3 separate regions of the Homo sapiens genome follow, and all the other regions are linked to region 1. Evidence: fine-mapped expression QTL. A gene starts in region 1. Each other region holds a variant in brackets. All regions are shown on one strand. Distances are between the middles of the regions.

Region 1 (10,341 bases):
TTTTGCTGGCACTACCTGCATATTTGTGTATGAGTAACCTGACTTGGCAAAATAACTAAAACCCCAAACACAGTTAAATATGCCATTCTCATTAGATAGCTATCCTTCCATTAAAGTTACACTATGTTGTCTATTCCAATGTAGTACAGTTTTCTTTTTGTTTTTTTGTTTTTTGAGATGGAGTATCACTCTTGTTGCCTAGGCTGGAACGCAATGGCGCAATCTCAGCTCACTGCAACTTCTGCCTCCCAGGTTCAAGTGATTCTCCTGCCTCAGCCTCCTGAGTAGCTGGCATTACAGGCATGACCACCATGCCCAGCTAATTTTGTATTTTTAGTAGGGACGGGGTTTCTCCATGTTGGTCAGGCTGGTCTTGAACGCCTCGGCCTCCCAAAGTGCTGGGATTACAGGCATGAGCCACCGTGCCCGGCCTACTGTGGTATAGTTTTCAAAGCACTATTGTATTCATGTAAAGCTAGCATTATTCTTTAAATCTGAATACAAAAATACTAATTGTGTGGGCACATACTTTTCATAATAAATGTTGTTGAGTTGCTTCATGGTGCAAATGATGTTGGCTTAGGCTCTAGTCCAGTATCATCTACTTAAAGAGAGGTCAACATTCACTGACTGCAAGTGCCCCTCACTCAACCCTTTACAACTTCCTGTTTCTCCTACTCTGCTGATATTACTCTGTTAAAGGTTACAGATAAAATTCTTTCCAGGCCCTTGCTATTCTCCATGAATGACTACAATGGCTTCACGTATGTTCTGCCTGCCAAAAACTTAAGAGTATTTTACGTTTCCAGCCCCACTTTCTCACCTTTTCTAAAATACAAATCATTTCCATGATTGAAGCCTTTTCCAACGCCTTTGGAATATAAACCCAAACTTTTTTTTTCTTTAAAGATCAACAACAGTTTATTAGTTACACATTCCCTCAGACAAGAAGAGGAAAGTAGTGTAAGCTATGCAGGCCCACACAGGGATTGCACTTGGGAGCAAAGAGAACAAACAGGGGACTGAGGAAGGTTTTGTAGTATCAAGAAGGTGAGATACGCTTGGTGTGGTGGCTCACACCTGTAATCCCAACACTTTGGGAGGTTGAGGTGGGAGGATCGCTTGAGCCCAGGAGTTCGAGATTAGCTCTGACAACATGGTGAAACCCCATGTCTACAAAAAATTTAAAAAAAAAATTAGGCATGGTGGTGCACACCCGTCATCCCAGCTATTCGAGAGGCTGAAGTGAGAGAATCGCTTGAGCCCAGGAGGTGGAGGTTGCAGTGAGCTATAATCATGCCACTGCACTCCAGCCTGGGAAACAGAGCGAGAGTCTTTTAGGAGAAAAAAAAAAAAAAGAAAGTGAGATGTGCCTTGAATTTCAAAACAAAATTTTATTGGTTCATCTGAATAATTCTGTGGGCTGGCAGGGAACTAAAACACATTATACTCCCAACTGTTAAGACTGCAATAATATACTATAATGCTACAATGCCATAATCTACTATATACAATAGTACTTAATACAGTACATCCTCATTTGATGTCATCCATAGGTTCTTGGAAACTGTAACTTTAAGTCAAACCATTAACCATATAACAAAACCAATTTTGCCAGAGACAAATTGATTTAAATAAGAGTTAGGGTCCTATGGCATATAGTTCCTATAGCATTGATAAAATCAGAATCCCCTTTCCAACCTGTTTGAGGATATGACAACCCTGATCACTCATCCCGTTTTGCGATAAGCACCCTCTTCCTTGAATAGCATAGCATTGCACTATTGTCATTTTCTTCGGCCTCTTGGTCTTCTCTGCGGCTGTCTTTTATCTCTGGCATTCTCTAGATCCTGTGCTTATACTCTTTTCTTCTATACCTCAATAATTCCTTAATTATCATGTCTGTAGGAAAGGCTCCCAAATTCACACCCAAAGGGTTCTAGATCTCCCCATTTTCAGAGGCCTCTGGACCATTTTTACCTGGCTATTTCTTCAACAGCTAAAACTCTGTATCACAGCAGCCTCAGGCCTGGTGTGATGGCTCATGCCTATAATCCCAGCATTTTGCGAGGCCTAAGTATGTGGATCACTTGAGTCCAGGAGGTCAAAACCAACCTGGGCAACATGGCAAGACCTGTCTTCACAAAAAATTAGCCAGGCATGGTGGTGCACCAGTAGTTCCAGCTACTCAGAGGCTGAGGTGGGATGATCACTTGGTCCCAGGAGGTGGAGGTTGCAGTGAGACGAGACTATGCCTCTCCACTTCAGCCTGAGCAACAGAGTGACACACTGTCACATACACACACAAAAGGCAAAAAAACCTAGCCTCATCTTACTCCCTCTTTTTTTTTTTTTTTTTTTTTTTTTGAGATGGAGTCTCGCTCTGTCGCCCAGGCTGGAGTGCAGTGGCACCATCTCGGCTCACTGCAAGCTACGCCTCCCAGGTTCATGCCATTCTCCTGCCTCAGCCTCCCAAGTAGCTGGGACTACAGGGCACATGCCACCATGCCCAGCTAATTTTTGTATTTTTAGTAGAGACGGGGTTTCGTCATGTTGGCCAGGGTGGTCTTGATCTCTTGACTTCGTGACCCGCCTGCCTCAGCCTCCCAAAGTGCTGGGATTACAGGCGTGAGCCACTGCTCCTGGCAGGGTCCTTCTATTTCTATCTCTGTTTATGGCTCCAGAATTCTCCCTGTTGATAAGCTTAATATCCCCAAATCACTTGACACCTTCTCATCTCCTTTGAAAGTCAAGATTATCTCTACTCTCTCTGTGCGTTTTCCCTCCCATCCATTCTGAATCCCCTTAGTACTTTCATTATTATTATTATTATTTGAGACAAAGTACATCTCTGTTGCACAGGCTGGAGTGCAGTGGTGCGATCTCAGCTCACTGCAACCTCTGCCTCCCGGGTTCAAGCAATTCTCCTGCCACCGCCTCCCAAGTAGCTGGGACTACATGCGTGTACCAGCACGCCTGGTTAATTTTTGTAGTTTTAGCAGAGACAGGGTTTTGCTATGTTGGGCAGACTGGTTTCAAACTACTGGCCTCAAGTGATCCGTCCGCCTCAGCCTCCCAAAGTGCTAGGCCACCACACCATCACTAGGCCACCAAGTGAGCAACCACGCCCGGCCCCCTTAGTACTAAAATAAATAAATAAGTAAACCAAAAGACCCCAGAAAACTGCTGTAAGAGTTTCCTTCACTTCCAAACTTTCTACCTCTTTTCAATCCCACCCACTGGTGCTGGAGTAATCTTTTAAAAAACATATTTTTGAGCATATCATGTTCCTGTTTATATGGTTCCAGAATAAAGTCCAAGTTCCAATTTTTTGTTTTGTTTTTTTTTTTTTTTTTGAGACGCAGTTTCACTCTTGTTGCCCAGACTGGAGAGTGCAATGGTGTGATCTCGGCTCACTGCAACTTCCGCCTCCCAGGTTCTAGAGATTCTCCTGCCTCAGCTTCCTGAGTAGCTGGATTACAGCCATGTGCCACCATGCCCAGCTAATTTTGTAGTTTTAGTAGAGCCGGGTTTTCTCCATGTTGGTCAGGCTGGTCTCGAATTCCCGACCTCAGGTAATCCGCCCTCCTCGGCCTCCCAAAGTGCTGGGAATACAGGTGTAAGCCACTGCGCCCAGCCTCCAATGTCTTCTTGATGTCACCCTAATCTACCGTTTCAATCTCATTTGCAACCATGCCCCTATGCTGGAACCAGAAAGGCTATTCACAATTCTCTAAACCCACCCACTTCTGTGCCTTCTCTCATCCGTTTCCCTTGCCTGGAACACTGGAACATCTACTCTCAAAATCACCAAACAGGCGAGTTTGGTGAAAAAGGAAGCACCTTTGTCTAGAAAGGCTTTTCTCAAAATCACTCTTTACCTTTCCCCAGCAGCCTTTCTCTCACTTAGCTGCAATCATCTCTTCCCTCCACTTGGTCCTTGCAGCATTTTATTTGTATCAGCCAACAATTTATTTTGTATTGCTGTCTTATTTCCCCTGCTAGATTGTAAGCAAGGTTTCAAATATTGTATTCATCTCTAGTTTTTCTTCCTCCACCAGAGAGGGTCTAGTGAATGGCTGTGTTTTCAAATGTTCTGAATAGAACAGAACTTTGAAGAAATAAAAGACAGAGCCAAGATATAGCCGAGCAAAATAAGGAAAAACAAAATCAGGAATGCGTCCACAGCTCCTGATTCTACCGAATACTCTCTCATACAGCCTCGCAAGATACCCTGCTTTTCCACACAGGAAGGTCGCTTTCTTCCTTTCACATTTGATGATTTATTAATCAACCACAGTGCTGCTCAAAGTACACAGAGGGTTCGGAAGAATGAAAGGGAAAAAAGTCAGGGTCTTAATATCAAAGATCTTAACTTCAGAGGGGTGTGTCAACACATATTCCATTTGTGCTATGTGTTGCGAAGCGTAGCAGCACGAGAGAACTCGGGGTCTCTGATCATGATCATTAGTGCTGAGGCATCTAAAAAAGATGAAAATAAATTAAAAGCTATGTAGGTAATCTTAGAACCCCTAGTAAAAAAAAGTCTGTTGTGGAGTAGAAAAATTAAAACGACCGCGAAAATGAGACCTAGGGGATTGAAGTAATGTGCGCTTGTAACATCAGTAATCCCCTCTCCAACGCGGGTCCTGCTTGGGACTGACTCCACCAATCCTTTTAAAAATGAAGACATAAAAGCCATATTCCTTTAAAAAATTTCCACTGCACCGTATTGCAACGTTCGAGCACTGAGGACATTTTCACGTGGTCACAACCCTTTTTAACACCCGGACACTGGGCCGGTCCTTTCTGGCCACGAGGAACTCGCTTCCCTAAAGGAGTACCGCATCACCGAGGGCGGGCGCCTCAGCCCGGGAGGACACTCCCCAGGGTAAACTACAGGCCTCACAAAGCGGAGGGAGCTGGACGCGAAGGCTCGGCAGCGGCGCCGACAGGCTTACCCCAGGCCCACTCTAGGCCGCACAGGGTTCGCGCCACCTCCGGCCCAGGACAGCTCTCAGACGCTGCCAGCGTGGAGCTCGACCCGGCTCACAATGCGCTGGGCCCCGCAGCGTGAGCGCAGGCGCCCGAGAGGCGGCGGGGGTCGGGCGGACGGCGCGCTCCAGCCGAGCCGCCTCCCTCTCTCGGCCCACACCCGCGCGGCCGCCCTTCGCCTGCCGGGGAGCTGCGGGTGGCTGGAGGGCGGGAAGCGACCGGCCAGTCTGCACCTGCATGACCCGGTCGCGCGCCGACCCCTCCCCTCTCTCTCCCGGGCTCAGTCCTCCTTCCTCTTCCGTCCCCCTCCCTTTTCTCCGGGCTGCAACCGGGTTCCGCCCCGCTCGCGCGGCTGCCCGGCCAGCTGTGATGTCACCAGGCCACGCCCCCTAATATAAATACTGGCGTCGCTGGCGCCGCCTTCTCACACTTTCAGGCTCTGATCGCGGCCGCAGTTTTTCCTTTTTTCTTCTGCCGTCGCCTTCTCTGCCTCTTCTCATCCTTTCTCGCTCTGCTGCTCTGCAGTGTGACGAGTCCGAATCCTCTTCCCACCCAGCCCGCGCCTTTCTTCTTTTGCCTGCGCTGTTCTATTTCTCCTTCGGCCGCCGCCGCCACTGCTGCACACAGCTGGTGTCGGTGCCGCGCTTTTACCCCCAAGTCGTTCCCGCAGCCTATGGCCCAGGCCGCCTTGGGTATTTCTGCTCAAGGTAACCACATCCCTCTTTAAAAATTCCGCCGAAAAAGAGAAGACGCTTTACCCGACTCTTTGGGCCGTTATCTCACGTGAGTACCGAGCCGAGGAGCGCGGGAGGGGCCAGGACGCGGGGCTGGCCTTGGGGGGCGGCTGGGGGGCTCCGGCTGGGCCCCGCCGCCCTTAAGACGTCCCCGCAGCGCCCCGCGGCCGGCCGCCTCGAACATGGCGGCGGCGGCTGTCTGTGCCCCCGGCGGCGGCGGCGGCGGCGGGGCTGGGCGGCGGGCCGCGCCTCAGGACCTTCGGGCGGCTGCTGGACGCTTGGCGGAGCCGGAGCCGCAGCAGTTGGGGCGAGGGGGCGTGTGCCAGTGGGGGAGCGCGCGGGGGTCTCGCCGCCGGGGGTCGCCGTCCCCTCCTGGCGGCGTGCGGCCCCCACCCCTCTCCCGTGGTGCATTGCTGTTTCCGGGGAGGGGGCCCGGCCGCAGCCCTGAGGGGCCGGGGTCCCGCAGCCCCTACTCCGCGGTGCGCCGCCGCCACCTTTGCCTCCCGAAGCCCGGCGGGCGGGCGGCGCTGTGGGCTGCAACGGCTGGGGTCCTGGTTATGAATGGAGCGGGGCGGGCCCCGCGCCGGCCTCTGGTGACAGCTGCGGAGGAAGTCGGATTCCTGGGGGGCGCGGGGAGCGCGGTCCCCCTCTGGTGGAGGAAAGTTGACGCCACTTGGGGCCTGGCGGCGGGGAAGCCCCGGTGTCAGGTAGCCAGCGAGAGGCTTTTGGCCCCTTCTGGAAGCCTCGAGGCTGCTGCTCCGCCCCTGCGGCGCTCCTGATTGGGTCAAGTCGCCTTCACTCACCCCAGTCACCTCCTGGAGCCTGAGGATTAGTCACCATGGCTTCGTTTTTCCGTCCGCGCCATGGTTCCTAGGCAGAAAGAGGGAGATTGGTAGACGGGTGGCTTATCAACTACTGTCTTGACTGCCAACAGTTGGTGGTGGTAACATGTTCTAACCCTTACACGGTATCCTGAATGTGTGTTTCGTAGACAAAGCTGCTGGTTCAGAAACCCGAAACAGTCGGGGACACAGTTTACCGCCTCATGTTTCAGCACATTTAACTGAATTTTGTGGTGGCATCTTGGTTATATTAGTTCTGTGTCCCGTCGTGTTTCTATCGTGAATTCCCAGACTGGGTGGGAATCTAAGGACTCAAAGGAGGGGGAATTGCCTTGTGCTCAGCGAAGGTTGATGTAGAGGTGCATCAAAGCACAAAGTAGAAGTACATCAAAGCACATCAAATACAGCAAGGGTTGGCAGAAACATGGCTCATGATTGTCTAGAAAGGCCCTCATAATTCATTAATTTCTTTTACATATACGAGAGCGTGCAGATGCTGATCATGATTAGAAATAAGCCCCAAGGAGTTTAGGAAAGACTCCAAAAGAAAATGATTATCGGTGGTGATAAGTGAGGTCGAGTAGTCAGTGCCTTTCTCCCCCAAGGTTTTATCACATACGTTTTCAAACAGAAGGTGAAAAAGAGTTATACTTCCACCTAGATTCTGTAATTAACATTTTACCTTATTTGTCGATGCATTTCAAAGTAAAGTTGGAGACCCCTCCAACTTTAGTATGTGCATATTAAATAGAGCTCAGTACCGCTTACTATTTTTTAAATCTTAGAGGGTAAAATTCACATCAGTATAAACCCACAAGTCTTAAGTATGCAATTTGATGAACGTTGACAAAAATACAGCTGTGTAACCTAAACCTTTTGTCAAGATGTAGAACATCGCCATCACCCTCAAAAGTTTTTTCTTGTCCTTTCAAATCGTCTTCCAGTCACCACAGAGCCAACCACGATCTTGGTTTTTTTTTTTTGGAGTCTAGCTCTGTCGCCCAGGCTGGAGTGCAGTGGCACAATCTCGGCTTACTGCAACCTCCGCTTCCCAGGTTCAAGCGATTCTCCTTCCTCAGCCTCCCGAGCAGCTGGGATTACAGGCGCCCACCACGCCCAGCTAATTTTTGTATTTTTAGTAGAAAAGGGGTTTCACTGTTGGTCAGGCTGGTCTGGAACTCCTGACCTCATGATCCGCCCATCTCGGCCTCCCAGAGTGCTGGGATTACAAGCGTGAGCCACTGCGCCCGGCTGATCTTGATTTTTTTTTTTAAACCCATAGATTATTTTCGTCTATTCCAGACTTTCCACATGAATGGAATCATACAGTATGCATTCTTTGGTATAAAAGGCTTCTTTTAACTCAGCACATTTTTAATATTCATCCCTGTTGTCTTTATCTGTAGATTATCAGTAGATTATTTGTGTTGCTGAGTAGTAGCCCATTAGGTGACTGTCCCTTGGTTGTTTTTTTTAAAAATAAACTTTATTAGGCCGGGCGCGGTGGCTCAAGCCTGTAATCCCAGCACTTTGGGAGGCTGAGGCGGGTGGATTGCCTGAGGTCAGGAGACCAGCCTGGCTAACATGCTGAAACTCCATCTCTACTAAAAATACAAAAATTAGCCGGGCGTGGTGGCTGGCTCCTGTAATCCCAGCTCCTCGGGAGGCTGAGTCAGGAGAATCGCTTGAACTGGGGAGGCAGAGGTTGCAGTGAGCCGAGATCTCACCAGGGCACTCCAGCCTGGGGGACAAGAGCAGCGGGACTTCATCTCAAAAAATAATAATAATAATGAAAAATAAACTTTATTTTGGAGTATCTTAGTTGCGCAGCAAAGTCACAAAGATACAGTTTCTTCATACTTCCCACCCAGTTATTAGTAACATCTTACGTTATTACAGTACATTTGTTAAAACTAAGAAACTGACTTTGGCACTATGAAACGTTCGAGACTTTTATTTGGATTTCGCCAATTTTTCTTTAATGTCTTTTTCTGTTCCAGAATCCAAGTTACCACATTGTATTTAGTTGTCATGTCTTCCCAGTTTTCTTTGGTTTGTGACAGTTTCTCAGTCTTCCTTTGTTTTTCATTACCATCACAGTCTAGAAAAGTGCTGCCAGATATCTGGTAGAATACTCCCCTCCCCTAAACTTGGGGTTTACCTGATGTTTTTCTCATGATTAGACTGGGGTTTGGAGTTTTTACAAAGAATACCACAGAACGATTTTAAAAATCATTGGTAAAGGCATTGTGTTTTCAGAGACGTACTGATAATTTTGAGATACTAAGTTTGTAATAGTTACTGTCAAAGTGATAGAAAGTTTTTGTAGTTGGGCACGGTGGTTTGCACCTGTAATCCCAGCACTTCGGAAGGCTGATGCAGGCGGATCACTTGAGCTCAGGAATTCAAGGCCAGCTTGAATTCCTATTTTATTTTTAAGAAAATAAAATAGGCCAGGCGTGGTGGCTCATGCCTGTAATCCCAGCACTTTGGGAGGTCGAGGTGGGTGGATCGCAAGGTCAGGAGTTCGAGACCAGCCTGGCCAATATGATGAAACCCCATCTCTACTAAAAATACAAAAAAATTAGCCGGGCATGGTGGCACATGCCTGTAATCCGAGCTACTCGGAAGGCTGAGGCAGGAGAATTGCTTGAATCTGAGAGGCAGAGGTTGCAGTGAGCCAAGATCGCGCCACTGCACTCCAGCCTGGGTGACAGAGCGAGACTCCGTCTCAAAAAAATAAAATAAAATAAATTACATAAAATGCTTCTTGTTTCTTACTGACCAACCGAGCCCTCTCTGTGCTATTCTCTAAGGTGTTAGAGAATTTGCAGTGTTTACATACACCATTCTAAGTGAAAATAATTTATTTTTTTCCATACTGCCTTTTCTCCGCATTTCCATTTAACAAGTCCTTCTTCATGCTTTTTTATCCTAACTGTCCGGATAAACATTCTATCTATCCTGTATGTAAGTGCTTATAAGAAGTGCTTATCTATCCTGTATGTGTTTATAAGAAGTGCTTATCCTATGCACCTTTTGGGTCTTGCTGTGTTGCCCAGGCTGGACTCAAATTCCTGGGCTCAAGCAGTCCTCCTGCCTTAACCTCCTCAGTAGTTGAGACTATAGGTGCATACTGTCACATCTGGCTCATTTTTTCTTTTCTTTTCTTTTTTTGGAGACAGGTTCTCCCTCTGTTGCCTGGGCTGGAGTACAGTGGCACAATCTCGGCTCACTGCAACCTCCGCCTCTTGAGTTCAAGCAATTCTTGTGCCTCAGGCTCCTGAGTAGCTGGGATTACAGGTGTGCACCGCCATGCCCAGCTGATTTTTGTATTTTTAGTAGAAGATGGGATTTCACTGTGTTGACCAGACTGATCTTGAACTCCTGGCCTCAAGTGATCCACTGGCTCAGAGCCACTGCGCCTAGCCCTATTTTTTGTATTTAAATAATGCCTTTCAAATTCTAGAGCCTTCATTCCCTACTAGTATCTTTTTGTTAAATGGAAATGTTGTAGGGTTCTCACTGAGGAACATTCTGGAATGTCTGACGTTTAATGTCCATAATGTTTCACATCATTGCTCTTGGGTTGCATTAAGCAGCAAAATAGCTGTGGATATATGTATTGAGAAAAAGATGAATAATGTCTTACCTAGGGTATCTGATCCTATTCCTTAGGATAATTGAGAATGATCTGTCCCCAGCATGACTCAACTTTTTATTTATTTAGAAAATTACGTTGGTGTTGAAAGAATCAGAATGTTATGGAG
Region 2 (10,341 bases), 280 kb after region 1:
TTCCTTGTTTATGTAACAGCTCATTGTCAGCGTTCCTGATTAGTAGGCAGCTTTTCTGGGACAGACATCTCTCTTCTGGCCAAGGGCGCTTTGGTCAGTTGGGCAGCTCATAACTATCCCTAGTGGCTCAGGAACCAATAAACAGGGGTTATTGTGCTTTACAGTTCTCCTAACACAGTACAGGAGGGCTTTGGAGGGAAGGAATGAAGAGGATGAGAAGTCTGAAAAGTCACCCGTTCAATACTTCCGTGAAGCCCCGCTTCTCCCTTTGAATCATGATTGTGGCTCGCAGAAAGAGCACGGACTGCAATCAGACTGATCTGCATTCAAATCCCAGCACGGCCACTTCCTGGCTGTGCGACTGTGGGCCACTTACTCCATCTCTCTGAACCTCAGTTCCTTCTTTTGAAAAACAAGGATATCAAGAGCTCACAGAGCAGTGGTGAGGATTAAATAAAATGGCATTCCAAATACATCAGGCATCTAATCAATACCTGCTCTTCCGCTAAGCAGGGCCCCCAGACTGGCTCTTGAATGGCACTTACCGTTCAAAGGAATCCTGAGAAACGGTGTTAGGGCCACTGCCACGTGGAAAAAAAAGTAAAGCAGAATTCCCTGTCTCCTCCCTCCGGAATAAATATAGATAGATCAAAGATTTCACTTATTTTCTTGGAGTAGGGAAGGCCTTCCTGAGCATGATTAGAAATCCAGAAACCACGAAGGAAAAGAATAGCCAATCTGATACATATAGATTAAAAATATCTGGGAGAGAAATAGACAGAGTAAGAGATAAATGGCAATTTAGGAAAAACATTTGCAACCTTATTCTACGGGCTAATTTCTTTAATAAATAAGAAATTCCTATCATTCAGTAAGAAAAAGGCTAATAACCAAATTGAAATGGCCAAAGGCTGCAAATAGGCAGTTCCCAGGGCAGAAAATACAAATGGCTTTTAAACATTGAAAAGATGCCCAAGCCTGCTCAGAATAAAATAAATGCAAATTAAAACTACAATTAGATAGCAATTTAAAGTCTTTCAGATTGGTACAGACCAAAAAATTCTGGTAAGACTTTTAGTGAAGGCAGAGAAAACAGATCCTTTCATATATTGTTGATGAGAGTGGAAATTGATTCACTCTTTCTAGAAAGCAATTTGGTAATTCTGTCAAAATCTAAATTTCAGGCCGGGCGCAGGTGGCTCATGCCTGTAATCCCAGCACTTTGGGAGGCTGAGGTGGGCAGATCACTTTGGCCCAGGAGTTCAAGACCAGCCTGGGCAACATGGCAATACCTTGTCTCTACTAAAAATACAAAAAATTAGCCAGGTGTGGTGTCACAAACTTGTAGACCCAGCTACTTGGGATGCTGAGGTGGGAGGATCACTGGAGCTCAGGAAGTTGAGGCTGTAGTGAGCTATGATCGCTCCTGCTCCACTGCACTACAGCCCAGGCAACAGAGTCAGACTCTGCCTACAAAAAAAAAAAAAAAAAAAAAAAATCTAAATCTTGTATACCCTTTGGTTTGGCAATGCCACTTTAGGAATTTATTCTGTAGATATATGTACAATTTTTTGCAATGATTAGAAGCAATTTGAATATCCATGAATAGAGGAGTGGTTAATTAAATTAGGATAACACCATAAAATAAATACAAGGTCAACCTTGTATGTGATAATATAAAAAAGCTTACCACGTGGAAAACCATGAGAACAGTGTATAGGTACTATGCATTCTTGTTTGTATTTTGAATGAATAAGTAGTATCATTCCCGTTTTACAGATGAAGAAAGTGAAGCTCAGAGGAGTGAAGTCGTGTGCTTGGGTCATCACATAGCCAGTAGTTAGATAACTGAGTCTGCAGAGAGCACAGGGATGTCTGTCTCTCTGGTAATAAAATCCAGATTTATAATACCATGCTCAAGAGCCTTCAGTAGCCTAAGAATCAAAGGATTTTCCTACCCTGGTTTCTACTTCTTCTCTTCATATACCCTTCCTCAAACTAAATTGAACTGATCCCCATCCCTCTATGTCTTTGTTCATGCTGCTCAGAGATCTGGATGAGCTAGATCCAATGCTACCTCCTCCAGGAAGCCCTCATTGGTTCTCCAGACAAAATTAACCTTAGCCTCCTCTAAACCCTTGAGCATTTTATCCCTTTTATAGAAATTTTTGGAGGGTGAGTCCTAGAGGGAGTGTAAGAGAGGAAGGGAGGAAAGGAATTAACATTTATTTTGGGCCTACTATGTGTCCAGCGCAATGCAGTGCCTTCACTCAAGTCTTCTTGTCTAGTATTTTAAGTATTATGATCAAACCATAGGTCGTTGGGGGCATGATCTATGTCTAATTGATCTGTGCATCTCCCCAAAGGCCTGGCCCAGCTCCATTCATTCAATGAATGACTGCATTCAACAACTTTTGAGATTCTACAACACATCAGGTAACAGTGTGTGGTGCCAAGGATACCAAGATGAATGGGGCAGGGTCTCAGCCCTCAGCATCTGTCTAGCTGGGAGGCCAACCACGTGACCCAATAAATCCTAATTGAACATTGTGCCAAGGTAGCGGGGAAGAGATTTGTTGGATGGTGGATAAATGAATGTGTGCACCTCATCTGAGGCCTGCCTTCACTAGCAAACTTGCACCATTAATCACCAATTTTACTCTTAAAATGTTGCTGATGGGTCTCATTCTGAGACTACCCTCATACACAGCTCTAGGATTACAAAGGTCTCCCTCTCACATTGTCTCTAGAACTGCACTGTCCAGTACCATAGCCACTGGTTACGTGTGGCCTTTTAAATTCAAATTAATAGCAACCAAACATAATTTAAAATTCAGTTTCTTAGCTGTACTAGCCAACAACCATGTAGGACAGGCATCCATGGACCTCCAGAGTCTCAAGAAGTGCTCAGTAGCCATAAATGACTACCGTGTTGGATGTTGGATGTGCAGATATAGGACATTTCCACCATGGCAGAAAATTCTATTTCACAGTGCTGAGCTAGAGCCTCCAAACCCCAGGCCTGGGCTCTCCTCTGCCTGCTTCCTTGGTGTCCTGACAGAGCTCACGGGGGGGCTCTGCACTTCAGTGTCCTCCTCTCCGAAGGCAAAAAATGTTCCTTAAAGAGTTGGGAGGCAACACTGACTTTCTCTCTCTTTTTTCCTTACTTTTTAATTTTTTTTTTAGTTTTTAGAGACAGTATGTCCCTATGTCACCCAGGCTGATCTCAAACTCCTGATCTCAAGAGATCTTCCCATCCCTGCCTCCCATCCCAAGTAGCTGGGACTACAGGCATGTGCCACCATGCCTGGCAGCACTGCCCTTCTCTACATTCAAATCATGCAAAGTTGGTGAGGTTATACATGCCATGAGAACCCACACTACATCACGACCCTGGTGACTCGGTGTTGGGCAAACTCTGGAGTCACTGACTGGTTTGACTTTCCTACCGTGCATATGCATTTGGTCTGTACTGATCATGGAATAAACACCACTCTCTTAAAAAGAAAATCATAACAAGTATAGTCACAGTTAACCATAGCCGTTTCCCTGAAAGGGGGTGGAGGTGGTGGGGGGCAGTCTGTGGCAGGATGCAGGGTCCCTGGGGACTCTCCCACAAGAGGGAGCACCCCCTCTACTTAGAGTCTTCCCCAACCCTTCCTATCCCACCATGATAGGCAGCAGATACAGACTCACACATGGAGGGCTTGTCGGCAACCCATCTGGATGGCACAGTGAACATGGGACATGAGACCACCGAGGACATTCAGCCCTCATGGCATGCCCATGTTGGTACAGCAAGGTGAGGGGCACCCTTGGGCCACAGGCCTCCTTCCTTCCTCTCTCAGTACCCAGGCACAAGGCAAGAGTGGCTTCCGCGTTAGCTTCCTTTGAGGGGCCAGCCCTCCTACCATCCCCGCTGGGGCCTCTTGGGTGCTGCCTGGAGTCAGGGGGTCTCCTGCAGCTGCTGGTAACCTGCCTGTTCTCCTGCCTGGGAGTGGGGTTGGGGAGCAGAAGGAACTGCCCCATGGGAAGTAATTTTCCTGTCTCCCTCTCCTGCCTGGCCTGGAGACTTCTCGCCTCTTCTGCTGACCCTGGAGGTGGGTGGATGCCTGTTCTGTGGGGTGTTGGCCCAGCAGTTTCTACCTGGCAAGGAGACCAGAGACAGCCACTAGAGGGTAGCGAACACCC[T/C]CCTTCTAATCCTGAATAAAGTGTGTGAGAAGTACAGCTCCGAGGGCGCTTGCTGCACCCCATCCCCGCAGAAGCAAAAACAAAACAGAAAACATTTCAGAGAGAAATTAACACAAACTATATTTTCATGTTTTACATTCATTTCCAGATAGATATGAATCAAAAGAAATCCCCCAGGAAATCAAACAAGAAACCTCTCAAAGCAAGATATTCAGTGTCCCTTTATTATCGTGAGATTTATATTAATAAATTCCTCTAATAATGTGCTCTCCAGAGCCCCGGCAATCTAATTAACATTGTGATGTAATACTGTTTGTTCTTGAGGAGGTATTTTACAAAGGAAAGACCAAAATGCAGGTTTCTCTTGCTCCCTTGGCACTCAGCAGTCTCTTTTATTATATTTGTCACATGGATTAAGAACTAAATTTAGAAATGAAATGAAAATGAAAATGCAATTCCTGCCTGAGCTTAGTTCTTGACAATTATCTATGTTGTCTCTGCCCTTCCGCAGGGAAAGCAGAATCACTTTGCAGTCAAGCTAGAGTCATGCAAACCGACGCTCCCTAGCGGTGGCACCAAAGCTGAAAGGTTGACGTAACCTTTCAGCTTTCACATGGCAAGTTGGGGTTTACTTATCAACAGAACTGAAGCATCCCCCAACTGCTTTCCTGCCAGCCTCTCTGCTGTTACTGTGTGTTCCTATACATTATTTTTCATCTCCAACGTGTTTACGTGTCTTTAGAGAGAAGTAAATTCCATTTCTTTTTATGACGTTGATCCATTTTTAATCAACAGGCAAAACAAAACAATTTCTGTGTTGTGTGAATCCCAGTAGCTAGGTTTCACCGTGACATTTTCACAACAGTCCTGCAAAGTATTTATTATTCTCCCTATTTTGTAGATGAAGAAATGGGCACTCAGGGAGGAGAAACATCTCGGCCAAAGCCACACAACTATTCCCGGGTGAAGTCTGGATTGCGTTGCTCTTCCCTCTGGTGAACTCCTGAGGGCAGGAAGGTGTTGGGTAAGTCTCTAAAACCCCACAGCACCTGGCTGGCACATCAAAGCCCTCAGAACCTGCAGAGTCTGAAAGAAGAGGGTGTGACCATATGGAAACAGGGAGAAAGATCTAGAAATCACCAGAGCCCTGTGAGTGCACTGCGGGCTGGTGGATAGAATTCATGGTCTATGGGATCATTACTGCCCTTTTGACTGCTGATTTTGTAACTGCAGGACCAGCCCAAATTGGGCCTACTCTGTTGATAACAGAATGTCAAGTTACCTTGTAGGCATAACAGAGCCAAGACTGCAAGTCATGCAGCCCAGGCATGCACAAAAGAAAAAGCTTTGACCTCTAATGACACCTGGAACACATGACTCCTGCCTGTGGAACCAAGAAGACTGGGACATGAGTGGAACTTGACCACAGGAACTCTTTCAGAAGCAAGGGGTCCGTTGGAAGGAAGATCCAGGACTATAATCCACCCCAACATACCTTACCATAAATGGGCCAATCTGAAGCCCTCCAATCAGACCCTGCCAATCCATCATTCCCGAATCTTTTCCTTTGCCCTCTGACCCCTTAAAACTTGCCCCAGACCCCAAATCAAGGAGACAGACTTGAGCCTATCTCTTTGCTGCCTGGCTACACGATAAAGCCTTTCTTTTCTTAAAAGCTGTGGCCACAGTACTGGCTACCATGAGCATCGGGCAGCAAGCCCATTGGCTCAATAACATTTTTACTTTGCAATTCTTAGCTCAGGCCCAGTCCCAGAGATTGAAGCCTACAAGGAGCTGAGACACGGTGGGAGCAGGGAGGGAGGAGAAGGTGATCCAGGGACTTACCAGGATATGATATATCATCGTAGGTATGACTGAGTACATGCCTACTTTTGTCTGTGGAGGTTGACAGAATTATTTTATTTCATGCTCTCAAAACACAGCAAGACCACATCCTTTGCTATAGTTAAGAAAAGGAAGCCTCAGAGATGTTTGTTATTCATCCAAGGAGCAAGAAAATCTTTTTTTAGCCCCCTTTATAAACATATTTCCCAATTTTAAATATATATGTATTTTTAAGTGAATGAGAAGCAAAGAACTGGAGCATGTGGGGACTTCCTGTGGAGTTTTACTGAGAACTGTGGCTGAATGCAGCAAGGGGTTGAGGAAGGATTTGTCTTGTTTTGGTTTTGCTTGGTAAAGGAAGGAAGCATCAGGTTTTCATGCTGCTGGGAATGATCTAACAGAGAGAGAGAGCGAAAATGATGAGACAGGAGAGGGAGGGCAGTCTTAGGGCCTGTAGCTCTGGGAGAAGCAGAGGAGACAGAACAGAGGCCTTGGCAAGGCTGAGGGCATCAGGGGCCCCTTCATGTGAAGCCAGTGGAATGCAGGGGCTTGCAGGAAGCCAGCTTTTTCTTCCTCCCCACTGCCTTTTCACCCATGGTGTGGGCTGCTTCCTCTCTGGCTGAGTGAGGTCTTTTTTTTTTTTTTTTGAGACAGAGTCTTGCCGTGTCACCCAGGCTGGAGTGCAGTGGTGCAATCTCAGCTTACTGCAAGCTCCGCCTCCCGGGTTCACGCCATTCTCCTGCCTCAGCCTCCCGAGTAGCTGGGACTACAGGCGCCCACCACCATGCCCGGCTAATTTTTTGTATTTTTAGTAGAGACGGGGTTTCACCGTGTTAGCCACGTTGGTCTTGATCTCCTGACTTCGTGATCTGCCCGCCTTGGCCTCCCAAAGTGCTGGGATTACAGGCGTGAGCCACTGTGCCTGGCCCTGCCTCCCAGGTTCTAAGTGACAGCACCATGCCCGGCTAATTTTGTATTTTTAGTAGAGACAGGGTTTTACCATGTTGGCCAGACTGGTCTCGAACTCCTGACCTCAGGTGATCCACTCACCTCGGCCTCCCAAAGTGCTGGGATTACAGGCGTGAGCCACCGCACCGAGCCTTGTCCGTATGAGGTCTAGGGCAGATTCTACAGCTTTTCAGCTTATTTTGGGTAAAAACAAACAAACAAACAAACAAACAAAAAAGTCCAGTCCAGACTGACAAGGAAATCCCGAATCCTGGTTCAATTTGAAAGCTCTTCCCTCCTCAGCTTGGAACGGCCTTGTACACAGTGAAAGAGGAAATGTGGCTACCTCTCTCTCTCCCTTCGCTCCCCTCTCCCATCCACTAGCTGCTGGCTTGGGGTTGTGCGGGTGGAAGGGAGGTGGCTGACGGGCAGGAAAGGCGTTTCTTGAATCCCTACAGTCCTTACTTGGCATGGGGCAGATGCACCATCCCTGATTCTTCAAGAACCATTTGGGTGAGTGCTTCAGAGCCTCCCATCGCTGGGCATTGGCCCCCAGTTTCTTGCTCACAATCATACAAGTCAAGTGTGAGCCATGGGCCAGCAGCATTGCATCACTTGTTGGAATAGAGATGCCAGGTGCGGCGACATGTACCTGTAGTCCCAGCTACTGGGGAGGCTGAGGCAGAAGGATAGCTTGAGCCTAGAGTTCAAGACCAGTCTGGATGACATAGCAAGACCCTATCTCAAAATAAAAACAGCAAAGAAATGGAGACTCTTAGGCTCACCCACCCCTGTTGAGTGAGGATCTGCATTTCCACAAGCCCCCCAGGAGTGTGACGCACAGTCAGGTCTAAAGCTCTGCCTCACACTCCCAGAGCCAGAGCCTTACAGTCACACACAGGCAACTCAACTTACATAGCTCTGCATACAATGGAATAAAATAGAACCTTGTGAAAGACAGTGATAGTTAACATCCAGGCCGTGCAGCTCCCTAAGAAGACAGAGTCACCAAAAGGCAAAGGGCAAGTAAGGCTGACATCTGGAAGCCCAGGCCAGCCAGCAGCCCGCCTGCATCTTGAAGGGGTAAGATAGAAAAATATTTTTACATATTATATAATATTTTATTTAAAAAGTTGTAAAAAATACATAAATATAAAAAAGATAGTGATATTGACTGGGGGCTGGTGGCTCATGCCTGTAATCCCAACACTTTGGGAGGTGAGGTTGGAGGATCGTTTGAATCGAGAAGTTCAAGACCAACCTGGGCAGCATAGCGAGACCTCTTCTCTACAAAAAAAATACAACAGTTAGTGGGCGTGGTGGCACGTGCCTGTAGTCCCAGCTACTTGGGAGGTCGAGGTGGGAGAAACACTTGAGTGTCCCTCTTCACTGGGTCAAACAGCTCCAGAAAGCTCTTTCACCCATGTCCCTTTCAAGGGCCCCCAAATCCAGCCTCCTCCTGCCAGTGTCCACCTGGATCCTGGGAAACAGGCTTGCCCCTTGCCCTCTCACTCTCATCAGGCTCTGCTGCCTGACGGAGTCACCCCGAGGCAGAACCTCTCCCTTTTAGAGTTTCCCAGGGAGACAGGTACCAGCCCTGTTCCTCCAAACCTCAGGGAACACACTTCAGATACTCTATGTGTTCTCTCAACACTTCCCGCACTAGTTGAGGTGATGTGGAAGCACTCCTTCCAGCCCAGTGGGGTGTGGGATGGGTGAGATGGGGCAGGAGTAGCCTGGCTCAGCAGACCCACATCTCTTTTCAAAGAAATCCTTACTACTGGCTGCTTCTATGGCCCAGGGAAGCCATAGCCTTCTCATGCCTCAGCCATAGAGGATGAGACGATTTCACAGCCTCTCAGAGTCTTGCCTAGGTGCTTGTTTTGGTTATTGATTGCTGTGTACCAAACTACCCCAGTCTCAGTGCTTAAAACAACAAACATTTACAGCTGGGTATGGTGGCGCCTGCCTGAAGTGCCAGCTATTTGGGAAGCTGAGGTGGGAGGATCACTTGAGCCCAGGGTTTCGAGGCTAGCCTGGGCAACATAGCCAGACCCTGTCTCTTAAAAAAAAAAAAAATTAACATAAAAATGGCAAACTTGTATTATCTCTCAGTTCCTGTGTGCTATGAACTGAATTGTGCCCCCTCCCAGATTCCTATACTAAAGCCCTAACCCTCCAGAACCTTAGAAAGTGATTGTATTTGGGGATTCTGCCTTGAAAGAGGTGATTAAGGTTAAATCAGGTCATAAGGGTAGGCCTCTAATCCAATAGGACTGGTGTCCTTATAAGAAGATAAGGAGACATCAGGAATGCGCATGGAGAAAAGCCCACATGAGGACACAGCAAGAAGACAGCCACCCGCCAGCCAAGCAGAGAGGCCCCAGGAGACACCAAACTCCCTGACACCTTCATCTTGGAACCCAGCCTACAGAACTGTGAGAAAACAGCCAGGCACGGTGGCTCATGCCTGTAATCCCAGCACTTTGGGAGGCCAAGCTGGGTGGATCATGAGGTCAGGAGTTCAAGACCGGCCTGGCCAAGATGGTGAAACCCCGTCTCTACTAAAAATACAAAAATTAGCCAGGCGTGGTGGTGGGTGCTTGTAATCCCAGCTACACTGGAGGCTTAGGCAGAGAATTGCTTGAACCCGGGAGGCAGAGGTTGCAGTGAGCCGAGATCACGCCACTGCACTCCAGCCAGGGCAACAGAGCAAGACTCCGTCTCAAAAAAAAAAAAAAATGTACTGTGAGAAAATAAAGGTCTGGCACTTTGGGAGGCCAAGGCAGGTGGATTGCTTCAGAATAAGAGTTTGAGATCAGCCTGACCAACATGGTGAAACCCCATCTCTACTAAAAATACAAAAAATTAGCTGGGCATGGTGGCGTGCACCTGTAGTCCCAGCTACCTGGGAGGTTGAGGCAGGAGAATTGCTTTAACCCAGGAGGCAGAGGTTGCAGTGAGCCAAGATCACACCACTTCACTCTAGCCTGGGTGACAGAGCCAGACTGTCTCAAAAAGAAAAGAAAAGAAAAGAAATGTCTTTTGTTTAAGCCACCAAGTCTGTGGTATTTTGTTATGGCAGCCCTAGCAAAGGAATACACTGTGGGGCAGCAAAGCAATCCAGGCACAGCTGATCTGGGCACCTTAGGCTCAGGCTCTCCCAAAGCTGCAATCGCAATGTCTCCTGGGCTGCAATCATCTCAAGGCTCCATGGGGAAAGGATCTTCTTCCAAGCTCTCTCTCGTGGCTGTGGGCAGGCCTCAGGTCCTCACTGACTGTTGGCTGGAGACATCAGCCCTTTGCCATGTGGGCATCTCCATAGGGCAGTTCACAGCATGGCAGCCAGCTGCTCTT
Region 3 (10,341 bases), 200 kb before region 1:
ATATAAAATATGGCAAGTTGTGTTGGTGAAAAAAATAATTAAGATTTGTCACAGGACTATGCGGTGAGGCCACCCACATACCTAGGAAACAGCAAAATACATGAAAGCTGCTCTTGGGATTTGATATTCTAAATAGTTCCTGTTCATCTTCTGGTTAAAAAACAAATGACTTTCAAGTTCAAGGTGGTGTCATACAGTTTATTCCTTCCTTTGTCCAACATCAACAATAACCTTTGCTGCCTCCAACTCCTTCTTTCACTTTCATCTTAATAGCCCTTTTCTGGGGGGGAGGAGGGCTTCCTCATATAAACCATTCTTTCAAAGTCTGTTTTGGTTGTTTCTTTTTACACTTTACAAGCAGTGACAAATTATGTCCACAATGAGTTCTCAATTAAAAGATGAAAATGTGACCTTGATCATTTTAGAGTTTTTGCAAATTTCAACTTGATATTCTATGGCCTTCCAAGGGCAAAAGACATCTTTATTGATCAATTTCTGCTGAGACAGAACTCTCCAGTTCTACTGATTTAACGACGTGGAATATTTCTTCAAGTGACAGTAGAAAAAGCTGATTTACCCATGATGATTCTATTAAGTGTGGTCTCTGTCAATAGAGAAGAATCACTATTTGAATGAGACCTCAAGATGCTTACAAATTCTAAATCAACACCCCAATCTGAGGGTTCAGAGGAAGAATCATTAAAAGGTAGTATCCGATTACAACTAACCCCTAGCCTCTGATTCTCCTGGGTATTTGTTTAAAATGTAGGTTATTCCTTGGATCTACTTAAGACTTTAAACCACATCTCTCTGGAGCTTGGTAATGAGCATTTTTATTAAATTCCCCAAGTACAAGCCCCGGTGTACACAATAAGCAATTTCAGTTTTGAGTAACTGCCAGGGAAGGAATGTCCCCCTTTCTGTTTGTTGACTGCCTTCTGATTTGTTTGAAAGCTTTTTTCTTCTTGCATTATCTTGACCATTCCTGGTATGAAGGATGTTGTCTTGTTTCTCCTCAGTTTCATCTTCTGCAGAAGAAGAAACCATGCCAGGCGGCAGTCTCTTACTGTTCATGGCTTCCATGGCTTTACTCTGTTCCCTTTTTCTCTCACAAGTCATCAGCTCAGATCTAAAAATACTCTAAGGGTAAATCCACTGGTGAATAAAATGGTTCCAATGTGCCATATTCCTTTCTTTAGAAAGCAAGAATTACCTCCATATATGAATCTAAAGAATCAATTGTTATCTATGCTAGAAAAATAAAGACCATTAATAAGTGCAATATTGAAATGGGTGAACATCAATTTAGAGACAAGTACTAAACTAGCAAAGTTTTTGCTAGGTTTCCTCCAGAACATAATACCATTTATAGACCTTCTAGGACAAACCATCTTTTATTGACATTAACAGAAGAAGATAATCACATTTTTTATAAAGGCAGGCAAGGTTTTCATTATAAGCTGTTCTATAGTATTTGTATATGTGGTTTTTAACCTTGTGCATATGCTACTTTGATTTCTTCGACAGCTGAGAATGAAGGAGAAAAACCTCATATCTAGATCAATGTCTTATATTTTATTTCCAACATTTTGGACTAATTTTGAAGTAAGAGCAAATAAAGTTTCACATTTGCTGAGTATTTGTTATGTACAAAGTGTTACTTTAAAGGTACTACTGGATATGCACTCATTCAAAAAGCTGGAATATGTTCCACAAAGATTGGTTCCACAAATATCTTTTGTTCCACGAAGATTTCAAAGTGTGGAATGTGTTCCACAAAGATTTTCTGCTGAAGAGCAACTTCAGCAGGGTAGTAAAGAGGTAGAAAAATCTCCTAGGTTGAATAACTGAGGCTACTGAAATTGGCATGCAAACAACTAGACACATTATCTAACCCATCATAGATGAAATGTTCTGGACTCTGGGTTCCTGCCAAATATAATAGCAACACAGGCCAGGCGTGGTGGCTTATGCCTGTAACACCAGCACTTTGGGAGGCTGAGGCGGGAGGATCCCTTGAGCTCAGGAGTTCGAGACCAGCCCGGGCAACATAGTGAGACCTCATCTGTGCTAAAATTTAAAAAATTGGCCAGGCGTGGTAGCACGCACCTGTAGGCCCAGCTACTTGGGGGCTGAGGTGGGAGGATTGCTTGAGCCCAGGAAATCGAGGGTGAGGCTGCAGTAAGCCCTGATCATGCCACTGCACTCTAGCCTGGGTGACAGAGCAAGACCTTGTCTCAAAAACAAAACAAAACAAAACAAAACAAAAATAGCAACACAAGTTAACATCTGATTCTCCATACCGAATATCTTTCCTATACCATTGTCCATCTCGGACTCAGGTTAAGCAATGTGTCTGGCTCATTCACACAACAGTTGAGTGTGGGGCGGGAAGTGTGACAACCAGCAGTCAAAAATCTTAGGTTCAAATTCTGACTGGCTCAAGATTTGTGACTCAACAAAGAATTCACTTAACTTCTTTCACCTGAAGTCTCCATACATGAAAATGGGGACCGCCAGTACTCCCTCCATGAACAACACGGGGAGGGGCCGGGAGGATGATGTGGATGTGAATGATCCCTGACAGACACTCAGTAAATGTTTAATGAGTCTGTTATCTAAGCACTATCCTCAAGGAGAACCAGCAGACTCCTCGGGAAGGTAAGTGGCTTGGGACAGTCCCTTTCCAGGAATGGTGACCGCCACCAACAATATCAATAATCCAGCACAGACTGGAGCTCAGTGACACAAACTGCTCTGTTGTTATGTTAGACACAATGACTTCCTTCTAACCCTCAGACTCTACAATGATGTGGATCTGGATTTTCCCAAATTAAACACAGTGAAAAGGAACTACCTGTGTTCCCCAAGGGCTAAGTACCTGCATCAACCTCTCACCATGCACCACTCGCAGCACTTTCTGTGCACGTGGGGTCACACTGACTCACCCCAACATCCCTAATGCGGTGGGCACTCTAATCATGCCCATTTTACAGAGGAGGGACTGGAACTCGGAGACCACTCTGCCCAGGACCACACAGCTCGTCAGCAGCAGAGCTGGGGCCTGGCCTCAGAGCACATGCTCAGCCACTCTGCTATAATTTCTCTGGTGGAAATCACAGTGAAAGTCCCGTCGTTTCAGACATATGCTGGGATTCTAAACCTTATGCAGTCTGTACCTACTCTCATGAGAACAACAGTAAAGTCTAAATAAAACCTTAAAAGTCACTGTGTGGCTGAGCTTCAGGTTAGTGACATGTTTTTCTTAAAAGTCAATTTAATGTCAAAACATGCCCCCCCATGATAGAGAGAGTAGCGCCACGTTACAGATACTAAGACTCAAAGAACATGTGCAAAAGACAAAGAACCAAAATTTTCTGATAGCAAAATCTTTCACAGCTTCCTCTTGTCCAAAGAAAAACTGAAGATAAATCCACACTCCAAACATGTCTTTAGTTTAGAATTCTGACAGATGACTTGGCAGTGAGTGTCAAAAACTTAAGTGTACATAACCTATGACCCTACAAATTCCACTTCTCAGATCTTACAGAAATACTAATACAAGTATACAAAGAAATCTGTGCAAGGATGCTGACTGCAGCAGTGTTTGTTAAGAGCAAAAACTAAAAACAAGCAGACTATCCATCCACTCGGCTAAACACATGATGACAGACACTCAATGGAACGCCACGCAGCCAGTTAAAAGAATGAGGTAGCTCCAGCTTCACTGACACAAAGGATTCTCTTAGATATACTCTTAAGCAAAAAAGCAAGTGACAGGATGTGTGTGGTATAATCCTATTTTATTAAAAATAAACTGTGTGTGTGTATACGTGTGTGTGTGTGAGACAGAGATGTAAAGACATAGAAAAGGGCCTAGAAAAATACATAAACTTCCCTTGGGAGGTGGAAATTGAGGGAGGGGGTCTCTCATGTTCTACATTGTGGATGTCTGTATTTGCTTGAAATTATTTATGAAATAATATAATATTTTGAAACAAAAGATTTTGGAGGCTAATTTTCTAAAGGGAATAGCATAGCTTAGATATGCCCCTAAACTGAAATGTAAACTTTTTTCCCATTTGCAAACCTGTGAGTACGTAGTAAGAGAAACATTGCCACAAAATCCTCTTTTAAAAGCTCTTTCAGGACACTAAATTAAGTCATTCATTTCTGAGATTTTAAAGGCCAACAATGTCTCTATTTTCAGACTATGTCACAAATGACATAAATGCCAAAATTATAGATCTTAAGAAGACAACACATAAAATACAGACTTAGACAAAACAAATGACTAAAGCTGCATAGTTCTGCTAGACTTTATTCAAAACTGGCTCTATTCTTAATTATTTGAGAGACCTAAAATTCTAGTGTTCAAATGTAAATACCCATCATATACTGAAAAGTCATCTTCAAATTTGTGTTCTGACCCAAATTTGGCTCAATTAAATCATACGAAAGTCAGACAACACAAATGGTTACACCTCAGCATATAACAAAATCCTGGAAGCAGCATAGCAAGTGAGCTATGACATCATTTAACTCTCAAACAGAACTGTAATCTTAAGTTACACACACCACAATACACCTTTGCACAGGTAATTTTATTCTCTCCTGTGGGTGTTGACAGTGCTCATTGATTGAAATTTGAAACGTTCAGAAATCCCATACCTGAAGATGGTCACATATTCTTTACATCATGATTCAGTAACTATTCAACAGTTATGTCTACTAAATACAGTGAACAAAACAGTATAAATGTTTACACCATTCCCCTGTGAACAGGGCTTTTGTGCACAATAGTAACAAATGGAATTAATGCATACCATGATATCAATAAGGAAGAGACCTTCTCTTTAAATAAACTATTTTGTTTATAAATAAACTCTGATTTTTTTAGTACACATTTACAGACCTGATCAATAAAAAGAAACTATATATATATATTTTTTCCTTTAAAAAGAAAATGTTGAGATACAGACCACTGTGGGAGAATTCACCTAGGAAAGGGCGTAAGAAGCAAGCAAAGGATACTAGAGTTAAAAGTACGACCATACTGCAACTTATTTCTGTTAGCACACACAAACACAAGGACAGGATTGTCGGGGGAGGAGCCCATTTTCACTTGAATTCCAGCAAGTTGCAATCAATCTTGTAGTACACATAGGGGTAGTATTCTTGTTGACTCAGGTTTAAACCTGGAATATCCATAGGAGCCTATGGAAAAAACAGACAATTATTCAATTTTGTATTTACAGAACTCAAAAAAAGAAAGCAAGTATTAACATTTACCTTTTTATTGAACATCTACTCTGGGCTAAATGTATGCACTTAAGGCTAATTTATCTGAGTTAGACATTATTCCCATTTTGCAAATGAGAAAACAATCTCTGAAAGACTGACTTCTCCTAGGAAACACAGACAGTGAGTGGTAAAGCCAGGTTCAAGCATTCTGACTGCATATGTATTTAGCATGATCCCACCAACCTTTTTTATGTATACTGTAAAAATTAACTTTTTAAATCTTGGACTTAGAATACTGAGTTGATGGGATACAAGACTTACAAAATATGGAGTAAAAATAAAGCAAGTATGATTTATAAGTAATACTTATTCTGTAATATCAGCACTTTGAGAGGCCAAGGCCTTGAGCCCAGGAGTTCAAGACCAGTCTGGGCAACATAGTGAGACTCTATCGCTACAAAAAATAAAAATAAAAACATTAACCAGCAGTGGTACTGCGTGCCTATAGTCCCAACTACTTGGAAGGCTGAGGTGGGAGGATCACTTGAGCATAGAGGTTGAGGCTGCAGTGAGCCAAAACCATGCCACTGCATTCTAGCCTGAGCAACAGAGCCAAAAAACAAGCAAGGATAACACTTATTATAAATGCATGTTATAAGAATTTACTGCTAGAACATTTATGTATCAAATAATTATACCTCTCATTTTATCCACAATTGCATGAAAGTGGAGCAAGTTGGCCGGGGGCAAGGTGGCTCACGCCTGTAATCTTAGCACTTTGGGAGGCCGAGGTGGGCGGATCACCTGAGGTCAGGAGTTCAAGACCAGCCTGGCCAACATGGTGAAACCGCAGCTCTACTAAAAATACAAAAATTAGCCAGGCATAATCCCAGCTACTCAGGAGGCTGAGGCAGGAGAACTGCCTGAACCCAGGAGGCAGAGACTGCAGTGAGCCAAGATCACGCCACTTCACTCCAGCCTGGGCAAAAGAGCGAAACTCCATCTCGAAAAAAAAAAAAAAAAAAAGAAAAAGAAAAAAAGTGTAGCAAGTCATTTCCCGCATTTCCTTCTATCAAGAAAAACTGATTTTTCATAGTTCTAATTAATGCCTATGTGAGATGCTACCATCTACCCTAAACTTTTAAAGAGAAAAAAAAAAATCAGCAAGATATTTAAAACCAGAAATATAAAGTAAAAGCCCACTACAATTTTTTTTTTTTTTTTTTTTGGGACGGAGTCTCCCTCTGTCACCCAGGCTGGAGTGCAGTGGCGCAATCTTGGCTCACTGCAACCACCCCCCGAGGTTCAAGCGATTCTCCTGCCTCAGGCTCCCGAGTAGCTGGGATTATAGGTGACCGCTGCCACGCCCAGCTAATTATTGTATTTCTAGTAGAGACGGGGTTTCACCATGTTGGCCAGGCCGGTCTCAAACTCCTGACTTAAGGTGATCCCCCCGCCTCGGCCTCCCAAAGTGCTGGGATTACAGGCGTGAGCCACCACGCCCAGCGGCCCACTACAATTTTAAACAGCAACAACAAAAAAACACAAGTAACTCTGTTTATATCTTCTTTTGTTTAAAAAATAACAGTTTTGTTTAAAAGAAGATATAAACACATAATACATTTTTTGGTCTGTTTTTTTTTT[TC/C]TTTTTTCAGATGGGATCTTACTATGTTACCCAGGTTGGTCTCGAAGGCCTGGGCTCAAGTGATCCTCCCGCCTCAGCCTCCTCAGTTGCTGGGACTACCAACATGTCCCACCACGCCCAGCTACGCCATTTTAGAAAAATGAACCTACCTTGAAAATACTCATCTATTGACTCTATCGCTTCTACCAAATAAAATTAAAATAACTGCTTATTTTCTTCCTCTCTGCAATTTATAGTTTTTGTAAATAACTAGTATCACTGGTTTCTGTATTTCTGCAGCTATAAACATCTGATACACAGCAAGATAATTACTAGCTTGTAGAAATGCCAAGAAGCAAAACACAGATATAATTAGTATAAAACAGGGTAAACAATGTAAATTACTATGTTTACATAACAAATTGAGAACCTCAAAGTAATAAAAAATGATTAAGTTTCATACTTACCCTCCCTTTTCTGTCTATCTTCTTTCAATCATTTTTTTTCTGAAATTCACTTCAATTCTTACTCTACTGGGCTAATAAGTACTTACATCAATAATAGCTGCTGCACTGCTGTCTAGATGTTTATACAATTCATGTAATACTTCTCTCAGTTTCTTCAAAGTTTTCTTATTGGGCTGAAGTAGCATTGCTTGGAAGTTCACTGGCAAGCCATACCTTACAAAAAAGCAGAAATACAGTACGCAATACAAGCAAACATGTAAAGAGATTTTCTTTTCAAAGCAAATATTCTCATACTCTTTAATCATGGTTAACGGGGAGAGAATATCTCCCTTTACCTTTACAAGTTCAACTAATATATATAGAAACTGAAACTAATATACACAAAAAACTTCAATATAAACAGAAACGCAAACCTTTGGTCCCCACTGTCCACTAGAAATCTCTACGCCAATTACTAGGAATTACTTCAATTACCATTCATTTTTTTTTTCTTTTGAGACGGATTCTTACTGTTGCCAGGCTGGAGTGCAGTGGTGCAATCCTGGCTCACTGCAATCTCCGCCTCCTGGGTTCAAGCCATTCTCCTGCCTCAGCCTCCTGAGTAGCTGGGATTACAGGCACATACCACCATGCCCAGCTGATTTTTCTATTTTTAGTAGAGACGGGGTTTCACCATGTTGGCCAGCATGGTCTCAATCTCTTGACCTCATGATCTGCCCGCCTTGGCCTCCCAAAGTGCTGGGACTACAGGCATGAGCCACCACGCCTGGCTTACCATTCAATTTTTAAGGTAATATATGAATATCCTCAGGAAATAAGAAGAAGTAAGGTCAGCAGATACTTTTATGGTAATAGCATGAGGTTACCCACATATAGTTTGAAAATTTGAAAAAATTTAAAAATAGTGAGCATGGTTACATGTAAGTTTTGGGGTGTTTTTTTGTTTGTTTTGTGTTTTGTTTTTTCAGGCGGAGTCTCGCTCTGTTGCCCAGGCTGGAGTGCAGTGGTGCAATAGTGCAGTGGCACAATCTCGGCTCACTGCAACCTCCACCTCCTGGGTTCAAGTGATTCTCTGCCTCAGTCTCCCAAGTAGCCAGCACTACAGGCGCGTGCCACCACACTTGGCTAATTTTTTTATATTTTTAGTAGAGACAGGATTTCACCCTGTTAGCCAGGATGGTCTCAATCGGACCTCGTGATCTGCCTGCCTCAGCCTCCCAAAGTGCTGGGATTACAGGCGTGAGCCACTGCACCCGGCCAAGTTTTGGGTTTTTTAAAACTATTTCTAATATGAGCAACCCATACATTGGACCAGAATATGATTTTTTAAATATCTCAAAATATTAAAATACTTTAGGTTAATATGAAATGATTTCAATAAGTCATTAGCATACTATGTATCCAATGACATATAAAACACCTGAAGGATCTTCCTTTTAAACAAATATTGGTTAATATTTAATCTACTTTTAAGTACCTACACAAGAAAAAGAACCTGAGGGTATGGCAGCATAAATCTCTTTTTCTAAACCTGGTGCTAAAGAACAAGACTAATATGCATTTTATAAGCTGTATGATGATACTGATAATCTCTGTCTCATGATTGGCCCTTTGATTTCTCCAAATCAATTTCCTATTGCTGGACTGTGTTATAATAAAGAGGTCCAATGTAAGGAATCTATGAACTCTTCAGTTCCAAGTTTGGCAATTAACTTGCTTTACCTTAAAACAGACTCAACGAAAACCCGTAATGCTTTCACGTGAATCCATGCAATAAATGCTTCACTAAAATTCACTTTCAGCCACCGTACAAGTGGTCCCTATAAAAAGAAAAAAAATTACCACAAATTTGGTCTTAGAAATAGCAATTAGATAGACCAAATATTTTTTTAAGTGACTACCTATTAGGAATCTATAGAAGAATTAAGTCGCATAATTCACTTTCTACATGTTTCACTATTATTCTCATTATCTCAGATACCTTATCTTAAATTAGATTAAAAGGTTCGCCACTACAGAGAGATCTCAACAGACACTAAAATGCATTGAACCAATTCACTAACACAGAAAAAGGTATATATTTTAATAAAAGTAGTTAAAATGGTACAAAATATAGAAATGCCTTAGGTTGGAAAATCAAAATATAAAGATCTGAATTTACTACACAACACTCTAAAACATTTAATACATGTAAAATGAAATTCAACTTACAAACAACTTCTTAGTAACAAAGATAAACAGTTATGTAGGCAAGTCATTTAACAGCACTAGCTCTTAGTTTTCCCATCTGTAAAAAAGGGAGTTGGTCTAGACATCTAAAACCTCTTTACATTCTAAATTGTATAGCGTTAAGTTCTTTTTAAACTTCAAATATTTAGTAGGATTAAGCGGATTTCAAATACCTCCTCTCTCCATACTTAAAAGATTCAGCTAACACTTCCTTGGATAACATTATTAGGCTCATTTGGATGTACCAAACAATTAATTTAAGCAAAAGGATAGCAAAACAAGTGAAAATCTTGTCAAAATATCTATTTTTTAAAAGGATTTTGGGTTTGCCCTAAAAAGCTGGTTATTTTGACATTACTTGGTTAGAATGAGTTTCCTCCTAGTTGAGATGATATGGCTTATAAAGTACTTGGAAATAATTTTCAATATTTCCCTTAATTTCCTCTTACATTATTAAGAGAAACACATTTTCACTCATTATGTTTCCCTTTCCAAACAAGCTTTTAGTCTTCACAGTAATCCCACACTTGAAGATGGCAAGAAAGTTAACACCATCTTTGATTTTCACAATTCCACTCGTTTCCCATTACACCTAGAACACACCAATTCTCCAATAGCTTAAATACAAATTGCTTCAATAAAAGATTGAGGCATTGAAAAAATCTGCCTCAAGAAAGTGAAAAGTCTTACTGAAAAGAACTTCGTTACTTAACTAAAATCACCCTTCACCTACAAGGATGTTAACCAGAATACTGCATTTAAAATTAATGTCTGATA

Which allele goes with the higher level. Positions count from the first base shown, and alleles are read on the strand shown. Sizes are in standard deviations (SD) of each study's normalised expression. Not every link is listed here.
With allele C in place of T in region 2, the expression in whole blood of the gene that starts at base 5,314 in region 1 is higher (small effect, 0.34 SD a copy in GTEx).

The links. PIP is the estimated chance that this variant, and not a neighbour inherited with it, causes the effect.
Region 2: its variant is fine-mapped to the expression of MAILR in whole blood (GTEx, PIP 0.98).
Region 3: its variant is fine-mapped to the expression of MAILR in whole blood (TOPMed, PIP above 0.99).

The regions. Positions count from the first base shown.
Region 1 is chr8:102,859,244-102,869,584 of GRCh38, reverse strand. MAILR (macrophage interferon regulatory lncRNA) reads right to left here and starts at 5,314. Exons shown (of 3, transcript NR_126339.1): 1 at 4,962-5,314. AZIN1 (antizyme inhibitor 1) reads left to right here and starts at 5,422. Exons shown (of 12, transcript NM_148174.4): 1 at 5,422-5,778. RefSeq lists enhancers at 4,344-5,076, 6,545-7,278 and silencers at 4,956-5,305, 5,966-6,195.
Region 2 is chr8:102,579,781-102,590,121 of GRCh38, reverse strand. No RefSeq gene overlaps it. Among named protein-coding and RNA genes, the nearest start is that of ODF1, 33 kb to the right of the region's middle. RefSeq lists enhancers at 3,888-4,117, 5,998-6,497. The variant T/C (reference allele first, on the strand shown) is at 4,192.
Region 3 is chr8:103,063,528-103,073,868 of GRCh38, reverse strand. ATP6V1C1 (ATPase H+ transporting V1 subunit C1) reads right to left here. Exons shown (of 13, transcript NM_001695.5): 11 at 9,058-9,155; 12 at 7,422-7,548; 13 at 818-5,217. The coding sequence ends at 5,122. Among named protein-coding and RNA genes, the nearest start is that of ATP6V1C1, 48 kb to the right of the region's middle. The variant TC/C (reference allele first, on the strand shown) is at 6,889.